Regions from separate parts of the Homo sapiens genome. Here regions 2 and 3 are each linked to region 1. Evidence: fine-mapped expression QTL. A gene starts in region 1. Each other region holds a variant in brackets. All regions are shown on one strand. Distances are from middle to middle. Region 1 holds the start of AATF (apoptosis antagonizing transcription factor). Region 2 overlaps AATF (apoptosis antagonizing transcription factor). Region 3 overlaps AATF (apoptosis antagonizing transcription factor).

The links. PIP is the estimated chance that this variant, and not a neighbour inherited with it, causes the effect.
Region 2: its variant is the best candidate, but not a certain one, in a credible set for the expression of AATF in substantia nigra (GTEx, PIP 0.88).
Region 3: its variant is the best candidate, but not a certain one, in a credible set for the expression of AATF in whole blood (INTERVAL, PIP 0.88).

Annotation. Positions count from the first base shown.
Region 1 is chr17:36,943,640-36,954,238 of GRCh38, forward strand. It overlaps AATF (apoptosis antagonizing transcription factor), which reads left to right and starts at 5,315. Exons shown (of 12, transcript NM_012138.4): 1 at 5,315-5,577; 2 at 6,575-6,766; 3 at 9,247-9,657; 4 at 10,131-10,268. The coding sequence starts at 5,487. It overlaps LHX1 (LIM homeobox 1), which reads left to right. Exons shown (of 5, transcript NM_005568.5): 5 at 1-973.
Region 2 is chr17:37,022,611-37,033,209 of GRCh38, forward strand. It overlaps AATF (apoptosis antagonizing transcription factor), which reads left to right. Exons shown (of 12, transcript NM_012138.4): 11 at 9,004-9,075. Among named protein-coding and RNA genes, the nearest start is that of MIR2909, 5.8 kb to the right of the region's middle. The variant A/G (reference allele first, on the strand shown) is at 3,648.
Region 3 is chr17:36,985,013-36,995,611 of GRCh38, forward strand. It overlaps AATF (apoptosis antagonizing transcription factor), which reads left to right. Exons shown (of 12, transcript NM_012138.4): 5 at 1,605-1,719; 6 at 3,507-3,708; 7 at 4,235-4,399; 8 at 5,762-5,845. Among named protein-coding and RNA genes, the nearest start is that of AATF, 41 kb to the left of the region's middle. The variant T/C (reference allele first, on the strand shown) is at 4,330.

The sequences.
Region 1 (10,599 bases):
CAGCGACAAAAAACTCTTATAGCTTCAGAAACGCCGACCTGCCGTGCATCAGGTGGGACTATATATATATTTTTTGTCTATCTGGATTTTTGGTTTTTGTTTTTGCCAAAATTGCAAAATTCTAAATGTAAAGCCCTCCGTATCAACTCTTCTACCTTCGCAAAACTACACATACACACATACACACGTACACGGACACACTCGGTAAGATGGTCTCCAGCCAGACCGCTCAGTAAAATGACTTGAACATCAGCTGTACAAGAAAAGTATTCTACCTTCACACACAAAAAGTTAAAAAAAAAAAAAAAGACTATTGAACTAAAAACAGTCAACTGTTTACGTATAATGTTAAATTCAGGAGTTCAGTGTTTTACTAATATATCCTGTTTTGAAACCTCTTGTTCGAAAACAAAATGTTTTGAGCAATCAACCAAAATTGTTCCTTTTCTTTTCCTGTAGATGTTCTGACAGATTTGCAGGGCTTTCGGCTCACTGTGCTAGTATGTAAAAAGGTGTTGTTTACACGAGGCAAAGAGAAAACATGCTATTCAGACAGTTGCCAAATAGAATAATTATAGCACAAATACTGTAAAGGTGCCTGGCACCAGCAACCTGAGAAAGTGTTAAAAAAAAAAAAAAAAAAGTGTTACAAGATTTAAAAAAAAACATCTTTGCTAATTTTTTTGTCCTGTTGAACATTCATGGAATTGTTAATATGACTTATATAGACCCACACAGGTTTTATTTTTGTGTCTTTAAAATAAAAGTCCAAAATATTTAAATTTTATGGTCAAATATGCAGTCAACAGCTGCTACTTTTTCTTTATATATTAAATTTCTCATATGTCTTTTATTGTTCTAATAAACCTAAGCTTGTGTGACCTCCAGTGCATATTAGACCATTCACTGTATGAAAGAAAACATGTTGAATAAATTTGTGAGTTTTTAATAAAAATAGAAAATCTGATGTTTAGATAATTGGTGTGTTATTTGATGTTTTCAAAGGGGAACCCTGATGGGGAGCTGAATGGGTCCTCAGAAGCCAGGTGGAAAAGAGAGGCAGGATTGGGATGATATATCTGTTTTTGCCTTGGCTATGGCTGAAACCTTTTGCTAATGCCAGCCAAGCTTTTCTCTGTGGCTTCCTGCTGTTATTAGCTACAGATTTACATCCTGTGGATTTAACTGATACCGTTGAAGAGATGTTTGCTGATAAGTTAATATAGAATTTGAAATAGAAATCAAATCCATGGCTAAAAAATGAGTGGTCCAGGTCTGTGATTAGGCATAAGATCCAAGGCATTCCCTCTTTCACTCTCCCTGCACATGCAAAACTGGGCTTGTATCAGATACTTGTAATACATAGTTAGAGGTGGTCCTTTTCAGTTTCATTTCATTTCCTATAGATAATCCGGCTTTCTAATTTGGTAGTTTGAAAGATAATGTAAAGGCTTTCTAATTTGGTGGTTTGAAAGATAATGTAAAATGAATGTATAGTACAGCTAGAAATGAAATACTTTAATCCCTTTCACAGAACTGATATGAAATTGTTGTTTTATAGTATTTGTTACCTTTGAAGTTCCCCAGAAGGAAAACTATTTTGCCTGGCACAAGATACATATTAAGTTTCTCTGAAAGATGAACAAAAATAACTAATATCAAAATCAAATTTCAACTCAAAAGGTTCTAAAAGTAGCTCGATTCTTTCCAGTCCTTCATTAGACTTGGAAGAAATTTGAATATTTTATCTACTATGAAATATTCTTGTGGATGTGTGTGTGTTTCAGTATCAGATGCTATTAGAGTTCCAGGATTTCTTTTCCATATCACCTAGATTTCACTCTGGATTATTTATTTCCTTATTTAAAAAGTCAAAGGTTTGACATTAAATGGTATATAATTTCCAGTGCTGTTTTCAAATTTTGTTAAGACACAGCCAAGTTTATCTTTCCTGCAGAGAAGGCTTTAAAATAAGCAATATTTCACTGCATCCATATGATGGCTTATCTAATGGGGGAGGAGGCTATCCGGGAGGAATCTGGCAGTGTTCTTTCAGAAATAAAAATGTATGAAATACAGAGGAGACTTTTGAAACTCCCAGCCTCTGCATGCAGCACATTTCTTTATTTGCTTTATATGCAATCACTGGATCGGCTTGTTTTTACCTTTTTAGCATTTATACACATTAAATCCTAGCTAACTTATTCATTATAGCCTCTACTCCCTAGCCCCCTTTAAAGACATTCATTTAAATGAACTGCGCTCACTGGGAAGCTGCATTTTCCTATCAAGGCTGCTGAATTATTTAGCAGCTTTATTGTGCAATCGGGGTATTTGATAAGAAGCGTTTTCGAGTTGGGCACACGATGTGGATTCGATTCTTCTAACAACGTGGTTGTGGCGCAGTCTCTCCCCTCGTCGCGGGATTCAGAATCCTGGCGAAAACCCGAACAGGTGGCAACGCTCAGCAGTCAAATTTGGAGCCGAAGGCCCCAAGGAGGAGGCCTGGAAATGTCAGGGCCTGTTCTCCTTCCCATCAGTGCTGTGCCGCCCACCTCTGGCCCCGAGGTGCGGGGACGTGCGGCACCATACCTAGGCGGAGCTCCCGCAGGAGGCGCAGCAGGAGGGAAGCGCCACTGCAGTCCCCTCTCGCCTGGGAGGGCAGCCTGGTTTCTCCCTGTGGCCATCTTAAAGCCACCACCTCTGTGCCTCTCGCCACCTGCCTTCAGGGTTCCAGCAGCAGGGAGCCACCATCTGCTCTGGCGAGGGAGCTGAAGCTCACCCACCCAACTTCTCCGGGCTGGCTGCCGCTGGTAAGCTGCTCTAGGTGAGGCACTTGGGGAAGTATTACCTGTGGAGAGCCAGGATAGGCATTGCCAGGGCTGGCACCTGAGGGTGGACAGCATCTGAAGAGAGGCAAGTGGGAACTTGGTTTTCCCAAACTCTTGAAACTCCTTGTCAAGTGAGCAGACAGTTGTTTGGGACAATTGGAAAGTGTCACCCCTTGCCCATCCTCTGCTGTGCCTAATCGCCTGCCACTTTGCAGCCCTTGGAGGGCAGGGAGAGGGATTGTGGACTGGGCGCCCCTCCGCCTTCTCTGGAGAAGGCCATTCTGTTAGGGAACTGCTCACCCTTATTCTCCTCTCCCTGTTCCTCTCATCTGCTCTCATCTCTACATCAGTCAGAGGTTGAAACTCCTCGCCACAGTCCACTCTCCATCTCCATCCCTACCCCATCAATAAGCCCTTCCCCCACCATCTCAAGACACTGGAATGCAGGTAGGGAGAGGCCCCCAGAGGGAGTATTTGAGAATTTGCTCCCCTGTCCCTTGCCTCAACTACTCTCAGTTGCATCTTAATTCCTAGAATTACTTCCTCTTCCCTCCACTCCTGGAGTCCTCTTTCTACCTTCAGTATAAGGTCAGGCAAACATTTTGGGGGGCCCTGGGATGTGTGTGACAGTAGAACGGTCTTGATTCCTTGCTAAAATGGCTTCCCAAGTCAGTAGGGACCAGGACAGAGAAGGGAGAGTAAGTAAACAGGTCTATGGCATTTTCTGCTGAGTGTTTGCCCAGCACAGCCCCCAAATTGACCAGCAGTGTCCTGTTTGCATGACAGCTTAGAGGTGGTCTCTGCAGTGACTCACCTCCCTTTCTCTTTTCTTCCTTCTCTTTACCTCAAAGGCCAGGTTTCTAAGCATTGTAAGTACCCAACATAGCAAGGGGATAGGATTGCAGGAGGTAGTTTCTTAAATGTGGGGTGGGAGAAACATTTTTGTCCTTTGAAGCCCCATGGCACCTTGTCAAGGAGCAAGGAACACACTTTTGCTTGGGAGGCCCGGACACAGGCACAAGACTGCAATTATAGAGGATAAACGAAAAACTGTTCTCTTAGGCTAAGCTCTCTTATGGATGGTAAAAAGCCGTTTTCTTCTCCTGAGTGCCCTGCCTAGCCTGGCATTCTTTTCCTTCCATGTCTGAGGGGGTTTACCCTCAGACAGGTTCTCCTTCCCCTCTGCAGCCCTGGTTGTCTTCATTCTTCAAGGGCCACTTTACAGGGACATGGAACAGGCTCCACTAAAGTGGTGTCCTCTTATTGCTCTTGGCCCTGAGGACATATGAAGATTGTGAAAGTCAGAGATCCTCTCTTCCCTTGGTTTTCATGGGAGACAGTAGAGAGCTGAGGGTTCCCCAGTTGTTCAGCTGTGGGATCCAACTGGCCCGGGCTGTACCCAAGGGGCACTGCCACAGTGCACCACTAACATCTCTTTTCTGGATCCTTTTGAGGCAGATTCTGTTTAGAGGGGTCTAGGTCTCTACAGGCAACCTCCAACAGATACCATAAGAATAGACCACTTTGTAGTCACACTTATCATCCCTTATTGCAGTTTCTGTTTACATGTTTGTCTACCCTCCTAGGCTGATTACCGTGGGGGGGAGAATCCAACTTACTTATCTTGTATCTTATCTAGCAGTGCCTGCCACATAGTGGGCAGTCAGGGAATGCTTGATGAAGGAAAGAGGATGTAAAGCGATTGTGTCTTTCCGTGTGCGGGGTGCAATTACATTTATACTATTAAGTCTTTATATTTTGAGTCTGTCCCTCTAACGGTAGACCTGTATTTTTCTGCATTTGTGCACCTGCTTAAGCTGCCTGAGCATGCCCTCATCTCTGAACAGCAAAGATAATCAATACCGAGGGGTATGCAGTGGAGTAATCCACACCCCACCCCCTTTCCCTTGCTCAGGCAAGGGTACTTAGAGACGCTACTGAAACTATCTTTAGCCACAGCGATTCCTAAGTATTCCCATTAAGAAAGACGCCAGCAGTCCGCCACACACTTACACGTGCATATCCCTGACATAGGATTCCCAAATCCTGGCCGCTGAAGGGCGGGAGGCGTGTGCCCGGCCTCAGACTACTATAAATTGCGAAATGACAAACCTGCTTTGGGTCCCAGTCTCTGCGTGCCCGAGTGCGCACCCGCGATTCGAGCAGCTTAAGCCCTACTCCCTCCTCCTTCCCAAATCAGCCACCGTGGGCCACGGCTACGCTATGCTTTATTCCTAAGCGAATCTCGCACAAATCTCGAGGCATATTTTGTACAAGGGGACACTGGCCGCGCGCATCGCAATCGCATCTCAGCGACAGAAGCGGTCACGTGCCTTGGCGCGCTTCCGCACCGCCCCTTCCCGCGCACTCGCACGCGCACGCGCACACGCGCCCATACGGCTCCAATCCCTTCAACCTTCTGCGCGCTTCCGCCTTCATGCTAGCAACGCCCGCAGTGACGCGCAGGCCCCGCCCCCTCCCGCGCGCCTCCCGGAAGTGGCCGGTCCAGAGCTGTGGGGTGGCCTCCGCGCGGTCTCTGGCGGAGTCGGGGAATCGGATCAAGGCGAGAGGATCCGGCAGGGAAGGAGCTTCGGGGCCGGGGGTTGGGCCGCACATTTACGTGCGCGAAGCGGAGTGGACCGGGAGCTGGTGACGATGGCGGGGCCGCAGCCCCTGGCGCTGCAACTGGAACAGTTGTTGAACCCGCGACCAAGCGAGGCGGACCCTGAAGCGGACCCCGAGGAAGGTGAGGCCGGACTGGGGCAGGCCACGTGCGGAGCGGTGGGCCAGGCCCTGTGGGGCAAGGGGGCGGCGTGGGAGGGGCGTGCGCGAGGCCGCCGGGCCTGCGCTCCTTCGCTTGGCGCAGAGGAACGTCGCCTCCCGCGAGGGTGGTCCCGGCCTCGGGAGGAGGGCTTCGGCTTCTTTTCACACGCACTCGAAACTTGGTGCTCGGCTGGATGGGCGGAACAGATCGAGGGCTCAGGCCGAGAGGAGCTGGTCTTCAGGTTTACTTGCTCCAGGCCTGTTGGAGGGAGCCAGAGAGTCTGCTAGCAAGTTGGAAGTTAGCTTTGAGGATGCCCTTTCTGGTATTGCGTTAGAAAGGAGGAGAAGAAAGTCGCATGTTTTTAATTCAGGTTGCCCTTCAAAACTAAGTTGGAGACTGATGGAAGGATTTTCTGGTGCTGTTTAAGTCTCTTGAAGTCTCAAGACACTTGTTCAGTGGCTGACGACTGAGACTCCTGTTCTGTAAGCTGATGTTCAGAGTCTAGCTGGGAGTAATCCCGCTTTAGACTTGAGTCGGAAGTGTGAGAAAGGGATAATAAGGAGGGATAAATGCGAGTGCTGAACCGTATCTTAGGAAGATCAGTTGAAGAAACTCGGGACTGTTTAGCCAGAATAAGCAAAGAAAACTCCCCAAAGAATGGGACAGAGTGAGGGGAGAACGTGATGACTGATTTAAGATATTGGAGCGACTGTCACACATTGAAGAGGAATTCAACTAGTTTGATAGGATCCAAGTCATAGAAATAGATCCCACTAGTAGATGCCAGGAGTCAACTTTCTGTTTAGAAACAGCAGTAAGACAGTGTTCTACTTTGGGAGAGAGTGAATTTCCTATTCCTGGAAGTTGGTGGGGATTTCGTAAAGGACGTTCAACTATGAGATAAATGGGTCGACCAGGGTTCCCGTTAAAGTTTCTGCTAACCTGGAGATTCTGTTTACTTTTCCCTCTCCCCCGACAGCCACTGCTGCCAGGGTGATTGACAGGTTTGATGAAGGGGAAGATGGGGAAGGTGATTTCCTAGTAGTGGGTAGCATTAGAAAACTGGCATCAGCCTCCCTCTTGGACACGGACAAAAGGTATTGCGGCAAAACCACCTCTAGAAAAGCATGGAATGAAGACCATTGGGAGCAGACTCTGCCAGGATCGTCTGGTGAGTAGACATTTTTGAATGGAACTCTTCTCTTCCCTAATTTTTTCAGGGTTAAAATCCTCCGGTCATCCCCCATGATCTTTGCAAGAGTAGTCTGCGGATCTTTTTTTTGAGACAGAGTTTGGCTCTTGTTGCCCAGGCTGGAGTGTGATGGCGCCATCTCGGCTCACCGCAACCTCCACCTCTGGAGTTCAAGCGAGGCTCCTGCCTCAGCCTCCCGAGTAGCTGGGATTACAGGCATGCACCACCACGCCCGGCTAATTTTGTATTTTTAGTAGAGACGGGGTTTGTCCATGTTGGTCAGGCACCCCTATCTGTTATCTTAGGAGAGACCATTGATTTGGTATTAGAAAGGGTCTTAGAGGTTACTTCATTTCACTTCATAAGGAATCTAAAGCCCAGAGTGATTAAGTTGCTATACTCCTTATGTTCGGACTAATGGCTCACCCTACAGTGGAGTGACAGAGAAGGCAGTGCATTTTGGCTACTGGAGAGGGTTATGAGCTGAAAAACCACTGTGTCTGATGAACATGTTATCCTTGAATTGTGACCCCTGACCTTTGGTTTTCCAGGACTTGCATTGAAGCACTGTGTGATATTAGTTATTTGTGAAACTCATTTTTTGCCATTCTAAAAAATCACATAATCCTTCTCTTCCCTGCAAAAGAGTTAGGAGTCTGTGCGCTTATAGTTTTAAAGAATTGTAAATTTCTCAGAGTGGAAGAAGGGGCTAGATATGGTGATTATTGGGAGAATGTCATTTGTTTTCCTTTAGAAAGGTCAGGGGTGTCATGTTGAGAATCCACAGATAATATAAAAGGAACTATCATTTAGGTTATGATATCTATGATTTAGTCCTTGATGTAGTTCTGGGAGCTCCTGATAAGCTCATTTCATATTCTTTGCCTAGAGACTGATAAAGGGACCAATCATGAGACAAATATGATAATATTTATTGAGTTCTTACCATGCGTCAGGCACTGAGTTTAGCTCTATAATTTAAGTTCTAAGAGCCTGGGACACAGTAAGTCCTCAAAAAAAAAATTATAAAATTACCTGGAATTAGACAGATTTTTATAAAAAATTATCACCATTATCACTACATGTGTCACCTAATTTAATCCTCCCAATTGCGCAGGAAGTTATTACTACTTAGCCCCATTTTACAGATAAGGAAATCGAGGGGCAAATTGGTTACATAAGTTTGCTCAAGGTCATATAGTTAGTAAGTGGAAGAAACATGATTCAAATGTAGGCTGTCTGACTCCAAGATGTACACTCTAGTAAACTCTGTATGAATGTTTCTTAATCTGAGAAATGGCGTACATTCAAAGAATTTAAATAATAATTTCTGTTTACTGTTTTGGCACTTAGTTTTTGTATTTATATTTTTGGCAGCTTTGTGTCTTAAGTTTATATATACCTTTTTAAAGAAGCGCTGAAGACCTGTCACGCTTTCCTAAAATCTTTATTTTATTGAAGAAAGTTTTTGGAAACTGGTCCCTCTATCTTAGAATCATACTTGAAACACATGGGGCTTTTATGTTCTACCATGGAACAGATTGGATAAACTGTAAAAACCTCTACATATCAGATGATACTCTAAGCATAAGTCAAACAAAGAGCCTTAACTAGCACTCTGTCTACTATAGGATCAAGTTCAGAGTCCTCATGAAAGACGAGACCTTTCCTGATTAGTCTCATCTCCCATCACTTCCTTGTGCATCCTGCACTCCAGTGCGTTTTCCCTTCATTATCTATGAGCTGTTGCCTTATGCTTCATAAGTAAAATTATAATGTCTCCTTCTCCACATGATACCATCCCCCACCTTTCCAGGAGAGTTAGGTGGTTCCATCTCCATACACTGTGTACTAATGACCTTGTAATATAATTATTGGCATGCATATCTACCACTCCCACCAGACCATGAACTCCTCCCAGCAAGTATTAAATTCTATTTGCCTTTCCTTAGCCCCTGGCTCATAATGAGTGCTTAATAAGTATTTAGTAAATAGGGCAGACGGATGTGATAGATTGTACATTTTTTCAGATCAGGTTTGGGAAAACTGGTAATTCTCTAACACCAGTTGAAATCTTACTGTTCTTCAAGGGCCAGAGCAAATGCTAGCTCTTCCTTAGAGATTAGCTTAAATTCACTTGCCCCACAGTTAAAATTTCTCACTCTTCTGGGTTATTGAAATTTTGTCAAAGCACTTCTGATGCTTCCTTGAGTTGTAATGTTGTGAGTCTGTCTTTCCCACTAGCTCCTTTTGTTAGGGTAGGACCCGTGTTCTATTCATCTTTGCTTCTCCCTTAGCATTTTGGAGATTGTAGATGTGTAATAAATATATTGTTGAATTGAGTGCAGTAAGAGATTTTCCCCCTGATGCCACAGTGCTTAAGTTGAAATGAAGTCTATGGCTTGGTATTTTCTCCAGGTAATACCCATTTTTCTCTTTCTTCCCTCTCTTCTTTGTAGATGAGGAAATATCTGATGAGGAAGGGTCTGGAGATGAAGATTCAGAGGGACTGGGTCTGGAGGAATATGATGAGGACGACCTGGGTGCTGCTGAGGAACAGGAGTGTGGTGATCACAGGGAGAGCAAGAAGAGCAGAAGCCACTCTGCAAAAACACCGGGCTTCAGTGTCCAGAGTATCAGTGACTTTGAGAAATTTACCAAGGGAATGGATGACCTTGGGAGCAGTGAGGAGGAGGAAGACGAAGAGAGTGGCATGGAAGAAGGGGATGACGCGGAAGACTCCCAAGGCGAGAGTGAGGAAGACAGGGCTGGAGATAGAAACAGTGAGGATGATGGTGTGGTGATGACCTTCTCTAGTGTCAAAGTTTCTGAGGAAGTGGAGAAAGGAAGAGCCGTGAAGAACCAGATAGGTTTGTACATGGTTTTGCTGATTGCCTGTTTTTCAAAGTATCTGCATTTGGTCTACTTTTCATTTGTTTGTTTTTGGCTATTCTCTATCTCCTGTGTCCTTTCAATTAGTTTGTGACATGCCCCACTTACCCAGAAGCCTAAAGCCCTATTCCTGTATGCTTAGCCAGCCATTTCTGCACTGATCTGCTTAGCTGGTTCTGCTCTAGTACTTCCTGCAACTGGGGAAGATTGAAGAGAAGAGTGTTTTCTCCTCTCCTTGGGTTTTAGCATTCCCACTCTGCTGTAGCAAATACTTGCTTCATGGATACTGAATTTATTTTCTCTAATAGAGAATATTTGTTTCCATGGCATTAAACTGCTAAAGCTGTGGTGCTTAGAGACTGGTGTGGTTTCCTGTTCTTCCCCACCCCTGCCACCTCACCCCCAGAATATTTTATTATTGAGGAATGGGATTCTCTTTTCTTCTTTTCAGCACTGTGGGACCAGCTCTTGGAAGGAAGGATCAAACTACAAAAAGCTCTGTTGACCACCAACCAGCTTCCTCAACCAGATGTTTTCCCATTGTTCAAGGACAAAGGTGGCCCAGAATTTTCCAGTGCCCTGAAAAATAGTAAGAATACTTATGTCCTGTTGGAATACTTAGAACCACTTTGTCAAATGAAGACAGCTTTGATTGAAGTGGACTGGGAGCTTGAGCCATGTTTATTGTGCTTTCTTCTCATCTGCCCTTGCTCTCCCCTCCCCATCCCCCTTGGCTTTCCAAGTTGCTTTTTTTTTTTTTTTTTTTTGAGACAGAGTCTCGCTCTGTTGCTGAGTCTCAAGTACAGTGGCGCGATCACAGGTTACTGCAGCCTCGTCCTCCTGGGCTCAAGCAATCCTCCCACCTCAGTGATCCTCCCACCTTAGCCTTCCGAGTAGCAGGGACCACAAGCGTGCACCAC
Region 2 (10,599 bases), 79 kb after region 1:
GACTGCCTGAGTTTGAATCCCAGCTTTGACATTGATTAGTAGTTACTTTGGGCAAGACCCTTAAACTCTGTGCTAGTTTCTTCATCTGTAAAATGGATATGATAATATATCAGCCTTGAATGGTTGCTGTGACGATTAAATGAATAGGGTGTGTATGGCTCTTAGAATAGTGCCAGGTACATAGTTAAGCACTGTACAAGTGTTTGTTGCCATTATTACTGTCATTATTATTGCTATCAGTATTCCAAGGTTGGGTCAGTCTCTTTTCCTAGTGTTCATTTATTTGTTTACTGACACGTCTCTTCCGTACCTGTCTCCCCCCAGCCCCCTTCAAGGATTTAAAGAAAAATGTTACTAATAGTACTTCATAGGTGACTAGGCTGAATGATTATCTTATTTTTTATTTTTGGGATCAAATTTTTCTCCAATACTGTACTTTTAAAATTGTAATTTTATGAGGACATAAATGTTCTCTAGAAGGAAGAGCTTAGGATTTCAAATCACAAGACTTGCGTTCAAACCCTGACTCTGTCTGGTGATATGATTTTGGTTGTTCTTTATTCTCTGGGCCTCACTTTTCTCATTTACTAAGTGGAGGTAATAATCCCTGCTTTGGGGATTTGGTATGGGAATTAAATGAAATCATGTGTAAATATCTGGTACATAGTAGGCATTCAAAAATGTTCAATATATCAGTTTGAAAAGAAAAAACCAGGATTTTGTTTTAATAGCAACTGCTTTTTATATTAATGAATTCAACTAGCTTCATTAAACTGTTCATTACAGGTATGTGTCAATGCAATTAGATACCTTTGCTTTTGCAGCATTTTGATAGCAGTGGAGATCCCCACATTCTCATATCCAGAGGCAGTAAAATCTTATTCTTTTTAAACAGAGTTTAAAAAGAGGCATTCTTTTTAAACAGAGTTTAAAAAGAGGCATTCTTTTTAAACAGAGTTTAAAAAGAGGCATTCTTTTTAAACAGAGTTTAAAAAGAGGCATTCTTTTTAAACAGAGTTTAAAAAGAGGCATTCTTTTTAAACAGAGTTTAAAAAGAGGCATTCTTTTTAAACAGAGTTAAACATGAAAACATAGTAAGTGGTTTTAGTGTCCTTCACCTTCTAAGAAGATGGTCATTAGGTGGTAGTTAAGACCCAGTCTGCCCTCAGGGAGCATACACAGTCATTTGTGCTATCTGTGGAGGATTGGTTCCAGGACGCACAAACAGCCCCACACCCCCACCCCTGCAGAAACCAAAATCCACAATGCTCAAGTTCCTTATATAAAGTGGCATAGTATTTGCATATAACCTACACACATCCTCCCTATACTTTAAATCATCTCTAGATTACTTATAATACCTAGTTCAATATGAACGCCATGTAAATAATTATTACACTACACTGTTTAGAATAATAAGAAAAAAAATTGGGACATATTCAATATAGACACAATCATTTATGTCTTAAGTATTTTTGATCCATGGTTGATTAAATCTGTGGATGCTGAACCCACAGCATCAGAGAGCCAACTAGTCTGGAGAGGATGGCAGACCCTAGCCGACTGAGGTGCTGTGTGGGAGGTGTAGCAGTAGAAATAATCCTGCTCCACCCTTGAGGGATGCAGACTGCTCAGGAAGACTTGCACAAGACGACTTCCTCACTGAGCCTTGAGAGATTAGTAGGCGTTTGCCCAGTGAAAGACAAAGAGAATGTGTACAAAAAGGTTTGTAAGCTTGAGAGAGTCTGGGACCCATTTTGGGAACTGTAATTAATTTGTTTTGGCAGAGACTTTTGTAGCAAACTGGAATTTGAACTAATTGGTCTGATTCCAGAGCCTGTTCTTTTAACCTCTGGCTGTTGAGTTGTTTCACTGGCCAACTGGCCTATACCAGCACCAAAAGTGAATATGAGAGAATGGCAGGAGATAAGGCTGCATGCATGGGTGAGTGCTAGATCATGACCACGTTAAGAATTTTGGACTTTATTCTGTAGACTGTAGTGAGTCATTGAAAGATTTTAGGCAGAGGAATATTGTCATCACATGCACATTTCAGAAAGATAATTGGCTGGGCACAGTGGCTCACACCTGTAATCCCAGCACTTTGGGAGGCTGAGGCAGGTGGATGGCTTGAGGTCAGAAGTTTGAGACAAGCCTGGCCAACATGGTGAAACCCCGTCTCTACTAAAAATACAAAAATTAGCCAGGTATGGTAGCATGTGCCTGTAGTCCCAGCTACTCGGGAGGCTGAGGCGGGAGAATCGTTTGAACCAGAGAGGCAGAGGTTTCAGTGAGCGGAGATCATGCCACTGCACTCCAGCCTGAGTCACAGAGCGAGACCCTGTCTCAAAAAAAAAAAGATAATTGTAGGAGATTTTCTATAAAGGACTAGAAAGTTATGAGAGCAAGGCCTGGAAGGAATAGGAGATGACGGATTGAGAGACATTTATACAGGTGAGTAGTTCTTACTTAAGAGTGGCCACACATGAAGAGGTAAAGGAAAGTGAGAAGGTTGGAATGACTCCCAGAGTTTCAGGGAACTAGATAGGTCTTGGTAGTAATCATTGATATGTATAAGAGAGAGGCTGCAAGGAGAACATCTTTTTTGTTGTTGTTTTTTGAGGGAGGGAGTGGATTCAGTTTCTGAATATGTTGAAGTTTGACACAACCTTCAGAAATCCAAGTTGAGATATTTTTCAGTCGAGAGGAGGATGTGGGTATTTATTAGTTGATAGTTTGGCAACAGTTTAATTGCTGTTTACCCAGGGAGGGTACGGTGTGACAAGAATACAGAGTGACAAGAGTAGAATCCTGAAGAATGTCAACATACGTGAGCTAGAGTAAGAGGAGCCCATAAAGAATGCTGAGGAACAGTGGCCATTGACGGGGGAGGGCAGGAGGAGGTTACGACAGCGATGAATACAGGACAGTGTTTAGTAAGGGGTCAGGAGCGCCTGGTGCCTCAGAGAAATCACAAAAGGGCAGCATCGTTTCATTTGTGATCACATTTCTTCACATGAAATGCCTTTGGTTACTGAAGAGTTCCAGAAACTGCAAACTAAAACTTTCCATACTTGAAAGGCCTCTAGAATTTCTGTGTAAACTTTTACTATCTTGATTAGTTTGTTTCATAAAAGCCTTTTGGAATCCAGTTGTAAAGGGAATGAGAGAAATAGAAAACCACCACTAGGGAAGCCCCACAGTAATAATTTTTGCAGGCAAGGTCCACAATAGATGCTAAAATCAATGGGCAAAAATTTGAGGAGAAACTGTATTTATTTGGTCTCTAAGTATCTCCCCCAAGATATTTGTCCATTACAAAGAGAAACATAGTGGCTTTGCAATAATCTAGCAGATGCCACCTTAACCAAGTGTTCAAGATGAACAGCACCAGTAAAAAGACATATCTATACCCCCTGTGTCTTCAGTAGAAAGATACAACATCATTTCTGTGGTATTCTTGCAAAAAAATGCCTAACCTTAATCTCATCATAAAACAGCATACAAATCCACATTGTGAGACACTCTACCAAATAAATGACCAGTACTCATCAAGTGTCAAAGTAATGATAAAACAAGGACTGAGGAACTGTCACAGATTGCAGGAGACTAAGGAGACATCACAGCAAGGTGTAATGTGGGGTCTT[A/G]GAAGCCCAAAATTATTACAGAACAAAAAGTTTTTAATGTAAGTTCATGTGTGTTGAATTGGTTTTGGTTTTGTCATCTGTACTCACCTGGCTCATCTTGAGACCATAAATGTGAGGATGTGGTCAGAATCAGAGAGTAGTCTTTACTCATAGCAATAGCGTAAGAACTAACATCTCCAGAAATCCCAGGTCAGGCACTGCTAATCAGTTTACATGCGGAGGCAGAAAGAGCATAAGCTCTGGAGCCAAACTGCCTAGGTTTGAAAGCTGACTTTTCCATTTCCCGGCCTTGAGACTTTGAACAAATTACTTTACATCTCTGTGCTTCAATTTCCTCATCTGTGAAAGGAGTATAATCATAGAAGTGACAATTTTATAGGGTGGTTATGCAGACTAAATGAGCTAATTCATGTGATGTAACATCCCCAGTGTTACATAGTAAGTAGCAAACTGGGATTTGAACTAATTGGTCTGATTCCAGAGCCTGTTCTTCTAATCTCTGGATCTTGAGTTGTTTCACTGGCAGGACCAACCCTATACAGGCACCAGAATGACATCTTGGCCACCTTAGCATCCTTTCCTAAGGGGTTAAACCAAGTGGCCCCCCAGGCTAGATGAGAATATTATAAACAACTTTCTTGAGTTAAACTTCAAGAACAGACAGTGTATGCCAGCTGTCATCACTGATACTAGGTCCCACCATTGAGCAATTTTTGCTCCTTGTTTGTGATAGGGTTGTATATGTAAGACTTCCAGAAATGTTGTAGCAAAGATTAACATTACCTTCTGGAAACAGTTTAAATAATAACACTTCATTAGTTTAAATGGTACAGCCTGGTCAGACTTGCTAATTGGATGCTAGAAAATAACGTTTTTTAAAAAAACAAATATTTTGGTTTTTGGAAATACAGTAATTATAATTATTGATTGTCAGTATTCTACTCAGCATTACATATAAGTGGATTTAGTTATGATTTAATCAGAAATCATAATGTAAATGGATCAAACTCCCAAGCCTTTAATAATATGACGTCTTACTGTGTTGGTCTGTTCTTCCACAACAAAATAATATTTGTCTTTTCTTAGTATGGTTGGTAAAAGATGATTTAATATTAAAACATACACCCATTTGCAGTGGCACCGAGACTAGATGCTAAGTACAGATTACTAAATGGTCTTTAATCTGATTTCTTCCTAAAGCCTGTATTTCATCATGTAGTTAATAGTTATTAACTATATTGTATTAAATGTAAAGATATTCTACAGAGCAGTACCATCTAATAAAAATATTAATATGTATTATATATGCAATTTTAAATGTTCTAGTAGCGACATTGAAAAAGTAAAAAGAAAAAGATGAACTTAATTTTAGTGACATTTCATTTAACCCAATATATAAAAATATTATTTCAACAATTTACTATTTTAAGAATTATTAGTGATATGTATTTTTTTTGTCCCAAGTCTTCAGAATCTCGTTTGTATATTATACTTAATTACAGTACATCTCAATTCAGACTAGCCCCATTTCAAATGCACAGTAACCACGTGTGGCTAGTAGCTACTGTATTGCATAACACAACTGTAGGGTACAGTTCATAGTCTTTGTCCAGAAAGTGAATTAAAGCCGTCTCTGGACACAGCCAAGAATAGTAATCATACTTTCAGATGGACACTGAAGTTTAGTGAGGCCTAAGGACATTAAAAGATATATTTAATTAACAGTATTTTTGGTTTATATTTAAATAAAAAGGTTATATAAATATTTATGCTCATACATTGACATAACTTTTGGGAAGGCATTTTGACTCAGTCAAGTTTACATATACATACCTTTCAACTCAGCAATTTCACATCTAAGAGTTATGTATTGGCCAGGCTCAGTGGCTTATGCTTGTAATTCCAGCACTTTGGGAGACTGAGGTGGGAGGATCACTTGAATTTAGGAATTTGAGACCAGCCTGGACAACATAGCAAGACCCTCTCTCTACCAAAAAAAAAAATTTAAAAATTAGCCAGGCATGGTGGCGCACACCTCTAGTCCCAGCTCCTTGGTGGTGGTCGGGGCTGGGAGGCAGAGGTGGGGGGATGGCTTGAGCCTGGGAGGTCAAGGCTGTAGTGAGCCGTGATCGCACACTGCACTCCAGCCTGAGCAACAAAGCAAGACCCTATCTCAAAAAAACAAAACATCACCAACAAAAAAACAAGGATACATAGAGGCCTTTTTTATAAAAAGTGAAGAATTAGACTGGGCATGGTGGCTCACGCCTGTAATCCGAGCACTTTTGGAGGCCAACACAGGTGGATCACTCAAGTCCAGGAGTTCTAGACCAGCCTGGGCAACATAGTGAAACCCCATCTCTACTAAAAATACACATATTAGCTGGGCATGGTGGTACACTCCTGTAGTTCCAGCTACTCAGGAGGCTGAGGTGAGAGGATGGCCTGAACCTGCGAGTCAGAGGTTGCAGTGAGCCGAGATAGCACCACTCCATTCCAGCCTGGGTGACAGTGAGACCCTGTCTCAACAACAACAACAGCAACAAAAAGTGAAGAATTAGAAGCAATGTATGTGTTCAAAAATATGAAAATAGGGTACTTCTGTTCCTACGGTTATATGCAGCTATTTATAAATTGTTTATGGGACATTGCTTATAAGGCTAGGTGAGAAAAGAATTCATTCAAAATTGTGTGAATATATATATATATAAGGATCATTATGTGAAACAAACGTAACAACAATTGTCTATAGGTAGAAGGATTGTGTGTGGGATTTTTTGTTTGTTTGTTTTTTAGATAAGCTCATACTCTGTAGTGAGCCATGATCACACCACTGCACTCCAGCCTGAGCTACAAAGCCCAGACCGGAGGGCTCACTGCAGTCTCAACCTCCTAGGCTTAAGCAATCCTTCCACCTCAGCCTCCCGAGTAGCTGGGACTACAGGCACATGCCACCGTGCCTGGCTAGTTTTCTTACTTTTTTATTTTACTTATTTATTTTTTTGAGACAGAGTCTTGCTCTGTCACCCAGGCTGGAGTGCAGTGGCCTGATCTCGGCTCACTGCACCCTCTGCCTCCTGAGTTCAAGCAATTCTCCTCCCTCAGCCTCCCGAGTAGCTGGGATTACAGGCACACACCACCACGCCCGGCTAATTTTTGTATTTTTAGTAGAGAGAGGGTTTTGCCGTGTTAGCAGGCCAGGCTGGTCTTAAACTCCTGACCTCAGGTGATCCACCCGCCTCAGGCTTCTAAAGTGTTGGGATTACAGGCGTGAGCCACTGCACCCAGCCAGTTTTTTTACTTTTTGGTTTTTGTTTGTTTTATTTTTGAAACAAAATCTCTCTGTCGCCCAGGCTGGAGTGCAGTGACATAATCTCGATTCACTGCATCCTCCATCTCCCGGGTTCAAGGGTTTCTCCTGCCTCAGCCTCCCTATTTACTGGGATTACAGGCATGTGCCACCACACCTGGCTAATTTTTGTATTTTTAGTAGAGATGGGGTTTCAACATGTTGGCCAGGCTGGTCTTGAACTCCTGACCTCAGGTGATCTGCCCCCCCTCAGCCTCCCAAAGTGCTGGGATTACAGGTGTGAGCCACCGTGCCTGGCCAGTTGTTTTTACTTTTTGTAGAGACGGGGTCTTGCTATGTTGCCCAGGCTGGTCTTGAACTCCTGGGCTCAGGTGATCTTCTGCCTGGCCTCTCAAAGTGCTCAGGTTATAGGCATGAGCCACTGCGCCAGGCCAACTGTATGTGTTTTCTGTGTGGTTTGGTTTTTTTTCAATTTTCTGTATTTTATACCTTTTGTATTACTTTTTTTCTGGGTTGGTGTGGGGGTATAGACAGGGTCTTACTATGTTGTCCAGGCTAGTTTTGAACTCCTAGTCTCAAGCAATCCTTCTGCCTCAGCCTCCCCAAGTGCTGAGATTACAGGCATGAGCCACCACACCCTGCCTCTATTACTTGTATAATAGGAAAAATCTTAACCAGTATTATTCTTGTAAAATTCATTTGTTGAGATAAAGAATTACCTTTGGGAGGCTGAGCTGTGGGTGATATAATAAATAATTAAATTATTTGATATGTGTAAAAATGTTCCTAAAACTTTAAAATATTATGTATTAAATACATGAAAATACCACATTTTGTTTTATGGATAGTGTTTTGCCCTAGTAGAGTTTTTTGGGTTAGAATTTTATTTTATGTATATAGAGAGGGCACATTATAATGAGTAGAAAAGGATACCCCTTTGAATTATCTTTGGTATGATTTGGTCTGTATAAGGTCATATATTTTCTAGAGCATCTCAAACACATCATACAAAATATTTTTTTTTCCATTTGGTGGGAAATGTAGGTGATATAACTTAAACTTCCATAGTACCTAGACTGAAGATCTAGGAATCAAACTTACTGTGAATTCAGTTGTGTTTCTCCATTTAAAGGTGGGGGAAATGAAAGACCCCCTGGATCTAGTGCATGGAGATGACGTGGAATTGCAGACCCCTTTTCTGCCTTGGGGAACCAGTGGCAGTGTGTGTGGTGTTGGTGAGGTGTTGCATTCAGATACTGTACCACTACCTGTGCTGCTGCCAGTAGATGGCTTTTGTGACATCTATTAAAATGAAAAATGCTTAAGATATATGTAGAGGAAGAAAATGAGGTAGTCAATTCCTCATTGTCTTTAGTCTGGAATAATGTTTAAGGGTTGTATATTGCTCAAAAGCACAAGTGTACCTGTTCTTTTTTGGGGCTGTACTATAAATGAATCTGTGTTGAACTGTCATTTACAGTATACTGTTATCAGACTTTTCTCCTGTAGCATTAGGGAAAAAGGGAAAAATGTACAGTCAGCCCTACATATTTGTGAGTTCCACATCAGTGGATTCAACCAACCACAGATTGAAAATATTCAGGCATGGGGAAAGGAATGTCTGTACCTGTGAACAAGTGCAGACTTTTTTCTCGTCATTATTCCCTGAACAATACATTGTACAACTATTTACGTAGCATTTACATTGCATTAAGTATTTTAAGTAATCTAGAGATGAATTAAGTATATGGGAGCATGTGTGTAGATTACATGCAAATACTATGCCATTTTATATAAGGAACTTGAGCATCCGTGGATTTTTGTATCCATAGAGAGTCCTGGAACCATTCCTCCACAGATACCATGGGATGACTGTAGTTGGTCATCCCAATGACAGTGGTAAGTGCCTATGAATTTTTCCCTATCCCACTTTGTACCCAGATGTTCCAGTGATCAGTTCTGGAGTTTGTTAACTCACTGAATGTGTTTCCTCTCCTAGGTTAATAGTTACTAATGTTGCTGCCTGTTGCTTCCTGCTTTATTTAGGTTTCATGTCCTTAGCAAGCTACTGAGTTTCATGGCACCTATTGACCATACTACAATGAATGATGATGCCAGGTGAGTAATAGATTAATTATGTGTCTCAAATGGCTTCATGACAGCCTGATATTGACCTGCTCTACAGCCTTCGCCCTCTCCATTTCTTCTTATCAGTTAACCATTTGTCATTGGCATCGCAGTAAGGGTCACATCTCTTCACCCTCATAATTACTATAAAACCAAACCAAAAACTTGCATAAATTTCAGTGCTGCCTTTGGTGGTTTGTTTGTTTTTCCTGTTTTGTTTTGAACTTTAGCCCAGCGCCCTGGGACATGTGAGCTCTCTAGGACAGGGCAGGTGGCCCATGTTCTTGCCGTTTGTACTTGGGGCTGTTGTGCATATGCTTTCCTTTTGAAAGTGGCTCTAGTGAGTGCTCTGGAGATGTGCATATGTTGTATTTGTTGGGGATTGTGAGTGTTTTTACAAAAGATGTATATGCTTATTTTATAAAGCTGAAACGAGAGAAATACAGAAAAAAAGTGTATGCTCATAATATTACCGTTCAGGGATAACCTTTTTAAAATAATAGTTTCTTCTGTATCTATTAATTGGCATTCTATAATGAAGAGCTTCCTCTTCTCCCTCATTTATTTACCATTTATTTATTCATTTATATCAATATGGACTCATGTTTTCCTATTTTATTCAATGAGTTATGTTTATTTTGATATTAAAATTGTCCCAGATAGTGGAAGTGCCGTCAAACTGGCTTGTGTCCTTCAAAGTTGTCTTCAGTCAATCTTTGAGTACTTCCTTACTTTCTGGCACAAGAAGATGTTTAATGCTCATCTTAGACTTTCCATCTTCCAGCCCTGAAATCAGTCTTTCTTGAAGGAGCCCTGGCTCTGTTTAGTGGATTGTGGTATTTAGAAACCAAGATCTAGGTACTAGGGGTGCTCCTTGTTAGTGAGTATTGCTATTTCTAGACCTGTCAGCAGAGACGGGAAGTGTATGTATATACACTCACACCTACACAGAAGACAGCCACTTTTAACATCTTACAGCATTTCATTTCAGTTTTTGTAAGTTCCCTTTCAGTATTTTCCTGTTTTTCTTTTTTATATTGAAATTATATTCAGGAAATGTTTTATATACTGAGAGCATTTTCATGTCGTTAAAATAATTAAAATTTTTCAATGACGAAATAATATTGTTATAATATTTATTTAGCCATTCACTGATTGTTGGACATTTAAATGGCTTTTAATTGTCATCATTGTAAATAATGCTATGAGAAGCATTTTTAAACATATTTACCAAGTGAAATTATTGGTCATAACATAGGCACAGGTGGTTTTTGCCAGTTTTATCCCTCAAACTACATATAAACTTTTTATTTTAGAGTATTTTGTTTGCTACCAAATGCCATCAGATTTTCCCCTCCTTGTCTGAAAGTATGAGATCTGCAAATTTTGACAAATACTATTATTATTTTTTATTTGGTTTATTCAGTACTTTGAGCACAAAACAGCCTATGGATGGTTCTGAGTACATTTGTGTCTGGCTTTGTGACCACATCTGCTATCCTGTGCTTTGCAAGT
Region 3 (10,599 bases), 41 kb after region 1:
TGCCTCAGCCTCCTGAGTAGCTGGGATTACAGGTGCACACCACCGTGCGCGGCTAATTTTTATACTTTTAGTACAGACGGGGTTTCGCCATGTTGGCCAGGCTGGTCTCGATCTCCTGACCTTAGATGATCCACCCGCCTCCGCCTCCCAAAGTGCTGGGATTACAGGCATGAGCCACTGCACCTGGCCTCCAAAGTTCTGAGATTATAGGCATAAGCACTGCCCCTGGCTGAGGATGAGGTTTGTTCAGTGTGTGTGGTTTTTTTTGGAGACAGGGTCTCACCTTCACTCTATTGCTCAGGCTGGAGTGCCGTGGAGTGATCACTGCTCACCGCAGCCTCAGCCTCCTGGGCTCAAGCCATCCTCCCACCTCAGGGCCCCTCCACCAAGTAGCTGGAACTACAGGTACGCACCACCATGCCTGGCTAAATTTTTTTTTTTTTTTTTTTGGTTAGAGCCGGGGTCTCACTGTGTTGCTGAGGCTGGTCTTGAAACTCCTGGACTCAAGCAGTCCTCCCCGAGGACCAGTTTTTTTTGTTTTGTTTTTTCCAGACAGAATCTTGCTCTGTCGTCCAGGCCAGAGTGCAGTGGCATGATCTTGACTCACTGCAACCTCCGCCTCCTGGGTTTAAGCAATTCTCCAGCCTCAGCCTCCCAAGTAGCTGGGATTACAGCCACCCACCACCACCCTCAGCTAATTTTTTTGTATTTTTTTTTTAGTAGAGATGGGGTTTCACCATGTTGGCTAGGCTGGTCTCAAACTCCTGACCTTGTGATCCACCCGTCTCGGCCTCCCAAAGTGTTGGGATTACAGGCGTGAGCCACAGCGCCCGGCCGACCAGTTTTTATTCTGAAAGTTTTTATCCGTAGACTATATACATCATCTTGACCAGCTCTATTACATATGCATCTTATTGGCTCCAAGGAGAACCAGGTGAGAATATATTCTCAATGCCCAAATTTTTAATATACAATTCAATACTGCAAATAGAAAGTGATTCATTAGCTTGGGTTTTCGTATGTGAACAGGAACTTTTCCATAAGGATATGTGTTGAGAGATGGAGTGAAGGATGTGGCAGCTCAAACCAGAGGCACATGAGATCTCCTGGGGGCAAGGTGGAAGGTGTTGGTGGTGGGGATGCCTAGACAAAGTCCTACTCTTTAGGAGAAGAGAAGGAAGTGCTCAAGGAGCTGACTGATAAGGAATAGTCCAGGAGGTCAGCAGGTAACCTGTAGGAAGATACCTAAGAAACTTAACACCAACGGAACAAATTAATGGTTATAATGAGAGGCCGGGGAGGAGTTTGTCAAGCTTAATACATTTAAGAGCTGACAATGTATTGGACTCTTACTCTTTGCAGACACTTTTCTAAGCACCTTACATGCATGATCTTGCTTGTTCCTCACAACAATCCTGTGAGGTAGGCAACGTTGTTATTTCCATTTGGGAATATTTCAGAGAGTATTTAGTTCCTGTGTGTATCCTGTGCCTCCCCTTCACTCCCCACAGCCAGAACTGCTCAGGAGTCATGAGTTATAGGCATCACCTACTTTGGAGAATTGTAGATAATTAATTGTCCTTTCTCTGTCCTTTATTTCCCAGGTCACAAGGCACTTAAAGCATTGTTGAGGTCATTGGTAGGTCTTCAGGAAGAGTTGCTTTTCCAGTACCCAGACACTAGATATCTAGTAGATGGGACAAAGCCCAATGCGGGAAGGTAAGAGAACAGAATCATGGAGTTGCTTATTTTCTTTTCATTTGGATAGTTTCCCATCATTTATGAAAGAAAAGCTAAGTTCTCTTCAGGCAGATATTAATGTTAGTAAAATAGAGTCTCATATTTACCTGATGGTCAGGATGGCACATAAGTTGGTGATTAGATTTTAGATTTTTATATTTAGTTGTACCTGATGTGCTTTGCGGTCTTAGACAAAGGCTTGCCTTCTCTTTAGATCTATTGGAATTAGAAGATAAAAGCACTTTGTTTTTTAGAGATGGGGTCTTACACTGTCATCCAGGCTGGAGTGCAGTGATGTGATCGCAGCTCACTGCAGCCTCAAACTCCTGGGCTTAAGCGGTCCTCCTGCTTCAGCCTCCCAAATAGCTGGGACTGCAGGCACTTGCCACCATGCCTGGCTATTTTTTTTTTTTTTTTTTGTAGAGACAGGGTCTTGCTGTGTTTCCCTATCTGGTCTCAAACTCCTGGGCTCGAGCCATCCTTCCACCTCAGCCTCCCAAAGTGCTGGAATTATAAGCATGGGCCACTTCACCTGGCCAAAAGCACATTTTTAAAATATTAATGCTTAATTAATGTTTATGAAACATTCTGTGCCCATACCATATATTGGAATCACTGGTCACAGCCATCTCCTTTGAATAAAAGCTGTTATTATGAAAGATGGAAAAATTTCAGAAAACAGCAAAATAATTATTTTTTCCCCCTGAAATTATTACATTTGATGAAGATTTTTCCCCCTTTTGTTTACACCTGCTGTATATACCTGCTTGCTTTTTTTCCCTCGAGCTTATCTTTTGTTTCACTTTTTATCTACTGAACTAGTTGGGAGGACAAAAAGGAAACTCACATTTATTGAGCACCTATTATATGTTGAGGTCAGTAATCCAGTGAGTGCAACTGGCAGATAGTTGGAGGTTGTATTACATTGCCATGGCAGTTGCATAGATGGCACTGCAGGTTAGTTAGTGCTAATTGTTGCCTACCGCTTTGAGTTTTCTTCACATTCAGCTTCTCTTGTATTTGGTTCAACTAATATTATTCATCTTTCCTTAACAGTTGGTTACAGAGAGACACATTTCCCTTATTGATTTGAGGATTAAGGTCGTAGAAATATGGTTATGTGTTTAATTTTTAAATACTGTCCTATAATACTGCAGGCCTGGTTCATACACATTTCTAATAATTCTTTTAAAACCTCATTTATTTTTATGGTTTACTTACCTTTTAAAAAATATTTTGAAACTAGTTCTTTTTATATTTGTTTTAAAAGTTACATGAGGCTGGGTGTGGTGGCTCATGCCCTGTAATCCCAGCACTTTGGGAGGCCGAGGCAGGTGGATCACTGGAGGCCAGGAGTTTGAAACCAGCTTGGCCAACATAGTGAAACACCATCTTTACTAAAAATATGAAAAAAATTAGTCGGGCATGGTTGCACACACCTGTAATCCCAGCTACCCATGAGGCTGAGGCATGAGAATTGCTTGAACCCAGAAGTGGAGGTTGCAGTGAGCCAAGATCGCGCCACTGCACTCCAGCCTGGGCAACAGAGCAAGACTGTCTCAAAAAAAAAAGTTACACGAGTTTTTGATTGATCTCATGAATATTCTTCTCAAAGAGCAAAAGCCATCCTTATATCTTTGGTGTTATTTTGAATGGAGACAGAACAGGTAAGGCCTAAATATTCTCAGTCCTTTATGTGAGCCTAGTTTTTAAAATCTAAGTAATGTTTGTTTACACTGGACATAATATTCTTACTGCTTTTCTAGTGAGGAGATTTCTAGTGAAGATGATGAGCTGGTAGAAGAGAAGAAGCAGCAACGAAGAAGGGTCCCTGCAAAGAGGAAGCTGGAGATGGAGGACTATCCCAGCTTCATGGCAAAGCGCTTTGCCGACTTTACAGTCTACAGGAACCGCACACTTCAGAAATGGCACGATAAGACCAAACTGGCTTCTGGAAAACTGGGGAAGGCAAGTGTGTGTATGCGCGCATGTATGTGTAAGATAGGTTGTGGCAACTTGAAGAAGTTTTAAGAAATTGGAACTACAGCTCATTTATATGGATGTTGTCACGATGTAATGGTAATCATTCATTTCTATAGCAAAATCTACTGAACTTCTGGCACTGGGGTTTATACGATTCAGACTTGGGATTTTAACTTTATTAGAAAGAATGTTTTATTCTTAAAATTGAGGCCTTGTAAGTGTTCAAGTGCTGAAAATCCAAATACTTTAAAGGAGTGGATTTCAAAGCAATAATTATTAAAGTATCAGAAGCTAATCTCCGTGTGTAGAAAAATGATATGACCTGCTTAAGACTAACTTTTTTTTTTTAAGAACAATTATAGCCACTCACAAACTCAGTCCTTTACAGAAAGTCCCTCCTGAAAAGATGATTTTCTATCTCTCTGCTGACACAGAAAGATAGAGAAACCAATGTAGCTTGCCTTCAGCACTGATTTTCTGCATTATCTGACACTGCTTAATGTTGTTGCAGGGTTTTGGTGCCTTTGAACGCTCAATCTTGACTCAGATCGACCATATTCTGATGGACAAAGAGAGATTACTTCGAAGGACACAGACCAAGCGCTC[T/C]GTCTATCGAGTTCTTGGCAAACCTGAGCCAGCAGCTCAGCCTGTCCCAGAGAGTTTGCCAGGGGAACCGGTAAGAACTCTGTAATGCAGAGTGATTATGGGGAATAGTTTCTATGAGGCTTATTAGCTGAAAAACTTGTAGCTATTACCTGTTTATATAAGAGGTTAGTGAGAGAAAGGAAAGCAACACTACTTTACTGGATTACTGAGAGAAACTTGAGTGTATGTGAGAGGAGAGAGTTTTTAAAAATGGGGCTTCTATTAACTCCTGTGTGTCATCTTCTCTTAATTTTGAGTTTGATGCAGGAGTCTGGTAGTAGAAGCATTCATAATCCAATTTTCAAAATTCAGTTTTAAAGCTACTTCTGTAGAAATGTCAGTATTGAAACAAGTGTGTACTTTAGGCTCAACGTTTGCCATTTAGGTACTTTAGAAAGGGTGCAGAAGTGGAATAGTCAAATTCTTTTGTTTAAAGGAAACATTTAAAATTTTTTAATTATGGAAGAAATATATACTTAATCCTTTTTTAGTTTATAGCAACTTAAAATGAAAAGCAAAATTCTCTACTCTGAAAATTTCACTCCTGAGGTGAAATTTTTTTATTTTTTTTGTCAATTGCCTGTTAACGTAACTCCTGAGGTGAAATTTTCAGTATTTAATAGTTGTAACAAGTTTACAGTTAATAATTAATAGTTGTAACAAGTTTTTGGGTCTTTTCTATTTGTGTAACTATATATGTGTGCAAATAACAAATATATATGTATAAATATGGTTGCCTTTTTTACTAAATGAGAGACATTTATGTAGTATAAATATGTAAAATATTACAACTGTATTTAAAGTCTTGCAACTTTTAAAATCTAATAAGTCCTAGATACTCTTTCCATTTCATTACCTAGAGAGCTACCTCATTTTTCCTAATGACCTCAAAGTATTCCATTGTATGGATATGCACTATCATTTATGCAAACAATGGATATTATGTTGTCTCCAGTTTCAGAAACACTGCTACAGGAAAGATTCCTGTACATGTATTATGTGTTCGTATAAATATATGGGTAGATTTCTTGAAGTGGAAGTGTTAAAGAAAATACACCAAATTCTGATAGATGTTGCCAAATTGCCTCCAAAAAGGCTGCATTAATTTCAGTCGTAGAGGTGAAAAATGGTATCTTCTAATTCTAATTTACACATATTTAATTTGAATGAGGGTAAACATATTTTCATATGATTATTTATGGGTTTTTTTGGTCAACTGCCTGTTAATGTTTTTGCCTGTTTTCATATTGGACTGTTTTGTTTTTTAATTTTAAGAACTTTTTATATCTTAAGGAAAACAGTGCTTTGACTGTTCTACATATTATTTATAGTAGCTACATTAGTTAGATAGCCTTGTTGGGATTCACTCTTTTCTTACTCATTGTTAACATAGGAGATCCTTCCTCAAGCCCCTGCTAATGCTCATCTGAAGGACTTGGATGAAGAAATCTTTGATGATGATGACTTTTACCACCAGGTGAGACTTTTACACTCTCTTGTTACAAATCATGTTTTAGCATTTTAAAGCAGCTTATAGAATTCTCTGAACAAAGAAGTTGCTTATTTTGGAAGGATAGAGTCAGACAGTGAGTTAGAACTCCCGCGTTCAAAATTGACTTACAGTGTCATTGTGGATTTGTTGCTTTTCTTCTATTTTATGTTTTCCTTTTGAAATGAAAACAGCTATAGCTACTTTGTTGTTGCTTGAGTGTAAATTAGCTGTAAAACAGTTTCAGGTTTTTTTCTCTGAGTCAAGTGGGTTCTTTCTGAGCCATTTTTGATGATGGAGGATTTGTTAAGTTATTTGGTTTCTTGTCTCATTACTATTAGAATGGGCCGTGGAGCTGGAGGGCTGGGATCCCAGAGTTCCTGAATTGCGCTACTGATCCTATTATCTGTTAAATCTTGTTCTTAATGTCTTTTTGTGCCTGTCGAAGTCAGTTAAGTATGTATTGAGAATGTCTGCAACTGTTGATTATAATAAGAGCATAGTGCTTTTGAAGACAGAGAGAATTGGTAGAAGTTGAAATATAGTCCAGTTCTCAATATGTTTTCAGACTCCCCCACTTCTTTCCCTGACATTACTCTCTGCTGGCATGCTGTTCTTTTTAATGATGCCAGAGACTGTTAAGATAGACTAAACATTTGGGCTGTTCTAGAGAACTGAAATAACTTCCTGTATTCCTGAGTCTCTTGATAAGTTATACTTTTTTTTTTTTTTTTGAGATGGAGTCTCGCTCTGTCACCCAGGCTGGAGTGCAGTGGCGCAATCTCGGCTCACTGCAAGCTCTGCCTTCTGGGTTCACGCCATTCTCCTGCCTCAGCCTCCCGAGTAGCTGGGACTACAGGCGCCCGCCACCAGGCCTGGCTAATTTTTTGTATTTTTAGTAGAGACGGGGTTTCACCGTGTTAGCCAGGAGGGTCTCAATTTCCTGACCTCGTGATCTCCCTGCCTCAGCCTCCCAAAGTGCTGGGATTACAGGCTTGAGCCACTGCACCCGGCCAGACAAATTATACTTCTTAATAGAGTGTGTGTTTGGCTGTACCCTTTCTAGCTTAGTGGAGAATAGAGGAAGCTGTTCAGCAGTGATATACCAGTTATTGTTGAGCCATTGTTTATCAAGATAATTTTTTTCTCTGTCAAATTTTTAATGTGCTAGCTTTAGCCAAGTAATTTGCGACTGCTTGTTGAGGGTTTAGCCATGACTGCTGTACTGTGTATATGGATATGAAGAAGAACTTCTTAGGAAAATTACATGTAAAGTCAATATAGAACAAGTGATTTTATATTGGGGATACCTCTGGTCTTGCCCTAAAAAGAGAAAGAGACTTTCTATTAATTTTTTTTATTCATTCTATAATGTTTGATAAAATTATTGCCATAAGTAAGTCTTAAAAGTAATGACTAGAGGGTATAGGAAAAAAAGATTGGTGTGGCTGCAGCTGTTCCCTGTCAGAGGTCCTGATTCTTTTTTCCTCTTCTCTTATTATATTCATTTGTCAGAAGAGTAAGGAACTCTATTTTGTTCTAGAGTGTCTAAGGAAGTACCTGATATGGGATATTAATGCTGTATAATTGTGTGAGATCACGGGAGACAATCAAAAATGTTCCAGTCCTCATTAATTGAAGTGTACATTGTTCGATGAAAAGTGCATCATAAATTAAATAGGCTTAATAAAATAAAGTGAAATTACTGGGGAGAAGTTGCCTCTGTTGGCAATCCTTAGTCTGAATTTTTTTTTTTTTTTTTTGCCTGGAGGTCTGTTTAAAAAGAAATAGCATTACTTGATTGGCCCTTCATCCCAATTAATAATTTTAACTTCGATAAATTCTGATTTCAGAGTTATGACTAGTCACATCTTAGCTTTTCCCCTTGCTGGTTAATTGGGGTGCTGGGGTTAATCTAAATTAAAACTTAAACTAATAGAGGTCAGCAAGGCAGCTAAAACACCTGAGTGAAACAAATGGGGCTGCCAGGCACAACTTTATCTTGGCTGTTTCCCAAGAGGGAAGTGGCAGCAAATTGGAGTTGTTTCAGCCTTCTGTAAAGGTGAATGATGGGTGACACTTGTTAATGTACAGCATCTCCGGAAGCATTCCAGATTGCTTTGCTGCTACACCAACTGCTGCCATCCATGCACAGTCAGTAGGAACTGGACCAGTTGCCAACATCTGGCAGCACAGCAAGGAATGGGTGCAAGTCTTGAAACCCTGCAGATTCTAAATATGGTGCTTAGAACTGTGCAGGTTTTAATCACTTACCACTCTTTGGCAGCGGGCTACGACAGCTTATCCTAGCCTCGTACATCACATTCCGACATCTGCTGAGCTGCAAGGCAGCTGCACATTCATTTTCTTTTCTTGCCTTTTCTCTTTGCTTCCCATTCCCCTTCTTCTTCCCACTCCCCTCACCCTTCAGTTTTCCTCCCCCTCCCAAATATGCTTCTTGGGAGAGATGATCTGTAAAGATTACTGCTTCATTGTGTGCAAGTAATTGTGGTGATGCCAGGCCCTTGACAGACACAAGGTAGCACCTGTTCTGCTGACCTGGTTAATTTCTTCTGTTGAGTGGGATTTGCCAGAGATTGGAGCTGAAGCCAATTCAGTGATAAGGCTAAAGAAAATGGCTGTATGTTTTCTGTCACTTCCCAATTAAATTGGCTTCATAAAGTGCTTTCCTTTATTTGTCAGAGTAGTAAGCCTGAGCTAAGTGTTGCATTCAGAAGTGGTTCAATATATTACAATGGGCCTGTGAGTTTTCATTTGTGTGGTTTTTTTTAACATGGTCATATGGAAGAGCTGGGTGGTGAATATAATACATTCCCCCTTTTTTAAAACCATACTTGAAGCCAGACTCTTTGGGTTCATGTTTTGTAAGGAAGAGATTATAGCCACATTGAATTTTAATGTTCCATTGTAAGGGTTTAAAGGCTTACTTGGTTAATTCAGGTGTCTTGAAGCTGTGTGAATGCCCTAACTACTGAGAATGATGTGTGGGCTCAGAACACTCCCCCTCTACACACACATACTCATTCACACTTTCATTCTTTGTTTCTTAATGGGCTTTAAGTTACCATATCTTTCAAAATATACTTGTATTATTTAATAAAGGTACATGTATATATGTATGTATATGTGTGTGTACATACATACATATGTATGTGTGTGGGCCATAGAAGATAGTATCTGATATCATAAATAATCTTATCATTTTTAGAGCTGAAAAGAACCTTAGAAGAAACTGACACCCTGAGAAGTTAAGTAACCGTCTGACATCATATAGTAAATGGCAACACTGGTAGTTAATGTCAGGACTTCTTAGACCAAGTCTTGCTCTGTCCATACCTTTATTTCTTAAATATTTCATTCTTGAGCCATAAAGAGATTTCACTGTAGTATTACAGTTTTCACTTTGTAAATAAATAAGCTTTATTTTCATAGAACCAGAAAAAGTATTTTGTGTTAGAAAGTAATTTTTTTCCTTAGAAGGCAAATGATTTATTGAGCTTTTGTTACTTAAACAATTCTAATGAAAAAATTAGCTTTATAGTTTTGTTACCGGTTTGTTTGGAAACTGGAATTGCTGAAAGCATGAAGTATAGCCAATGGTGAAGGTTTTATGAGAGAAACTGTTCATCTGCTTCAGAAAAGCATTGCAGGATTTTACTTCCAAACAGAATTACTTTACAGTTGGCCTATTTCTTGTCAAAGCGCATTCCTAAAGGCAGTTTCACAAAACATGAAGGTTGTAAATGACCACGAAGGATGAGCCATTCAGAAATATTTTCAGTGTCTGTTTGTTATGTCATGATCCTATCTGCTACTTCATAACATTCAGTTCTCTTCAGATCTGTTGTCTGTATCACCATTTAAGGCTTTTGTTTTGTTTTATTTTTTTAAACCATCAGATGATCTTTGACTTGATAAGCCTAAGTTTTTAAAGAATCAGGGAAGGACCAGGATTTGCTAAACACTAGTGGCGTGCCAGTCCCTGGACTAAGTAGATAGGTACTTGGCATGTGTCTTGATTTAATCCTCACAAGATCCTCGTATTGTGATGTAACTGCACTTAGCAATAAGCTATATAAAGTGGCTGGTTTTCTTCTTTTCATATCCCAGATCGCAAACTAGTTTCTTGTCACTTCATGCGATATTTTGTTCTGAAAGGACTAATTGAGCTTAGATGTTGACAGATCAATACCTGGATTTCTAAGAGTTCATTAGGGTTTTGTATGTTGCTTCTAGCTCTGTTTAGTTTTGATCTGGTTTGTCCTGTCACTTTGACTCTAGCCAAGAGTATCTAGAGAACGGCATAATAGGTTTTGCTCTTTTGATGACCACTTTGACGGGTTAAATTTCTTCTTTCATTTGCCATCAGGACATGTCTATAACTGACCTTGCCACATGCTGAATTTTTGTGTCTAAGACATTTGATAATGCCATAAACAGGTAATTACTAATTCAGTGAACTATTAAAAGTCGATAATGTTGAGAAATAGAGAAGAGGCAGGCTTTTTGACATGACAGTTTAATTAAATTGGTGAGCGATTAATATGGACAGGTGATGTGGTAGAATTGTATGCATTTAGATCTTAGTGTGAATAAGAGGTGTCCCAAGCTACCCTTATGTTAATGGTGATATGATATTTTTTATATATTTGTTGTTTTTATTTATCGATTTATTTTGTTTGTTTGTTTGTTTTTGAGACAGGATCTCACTCTGTTGCCCA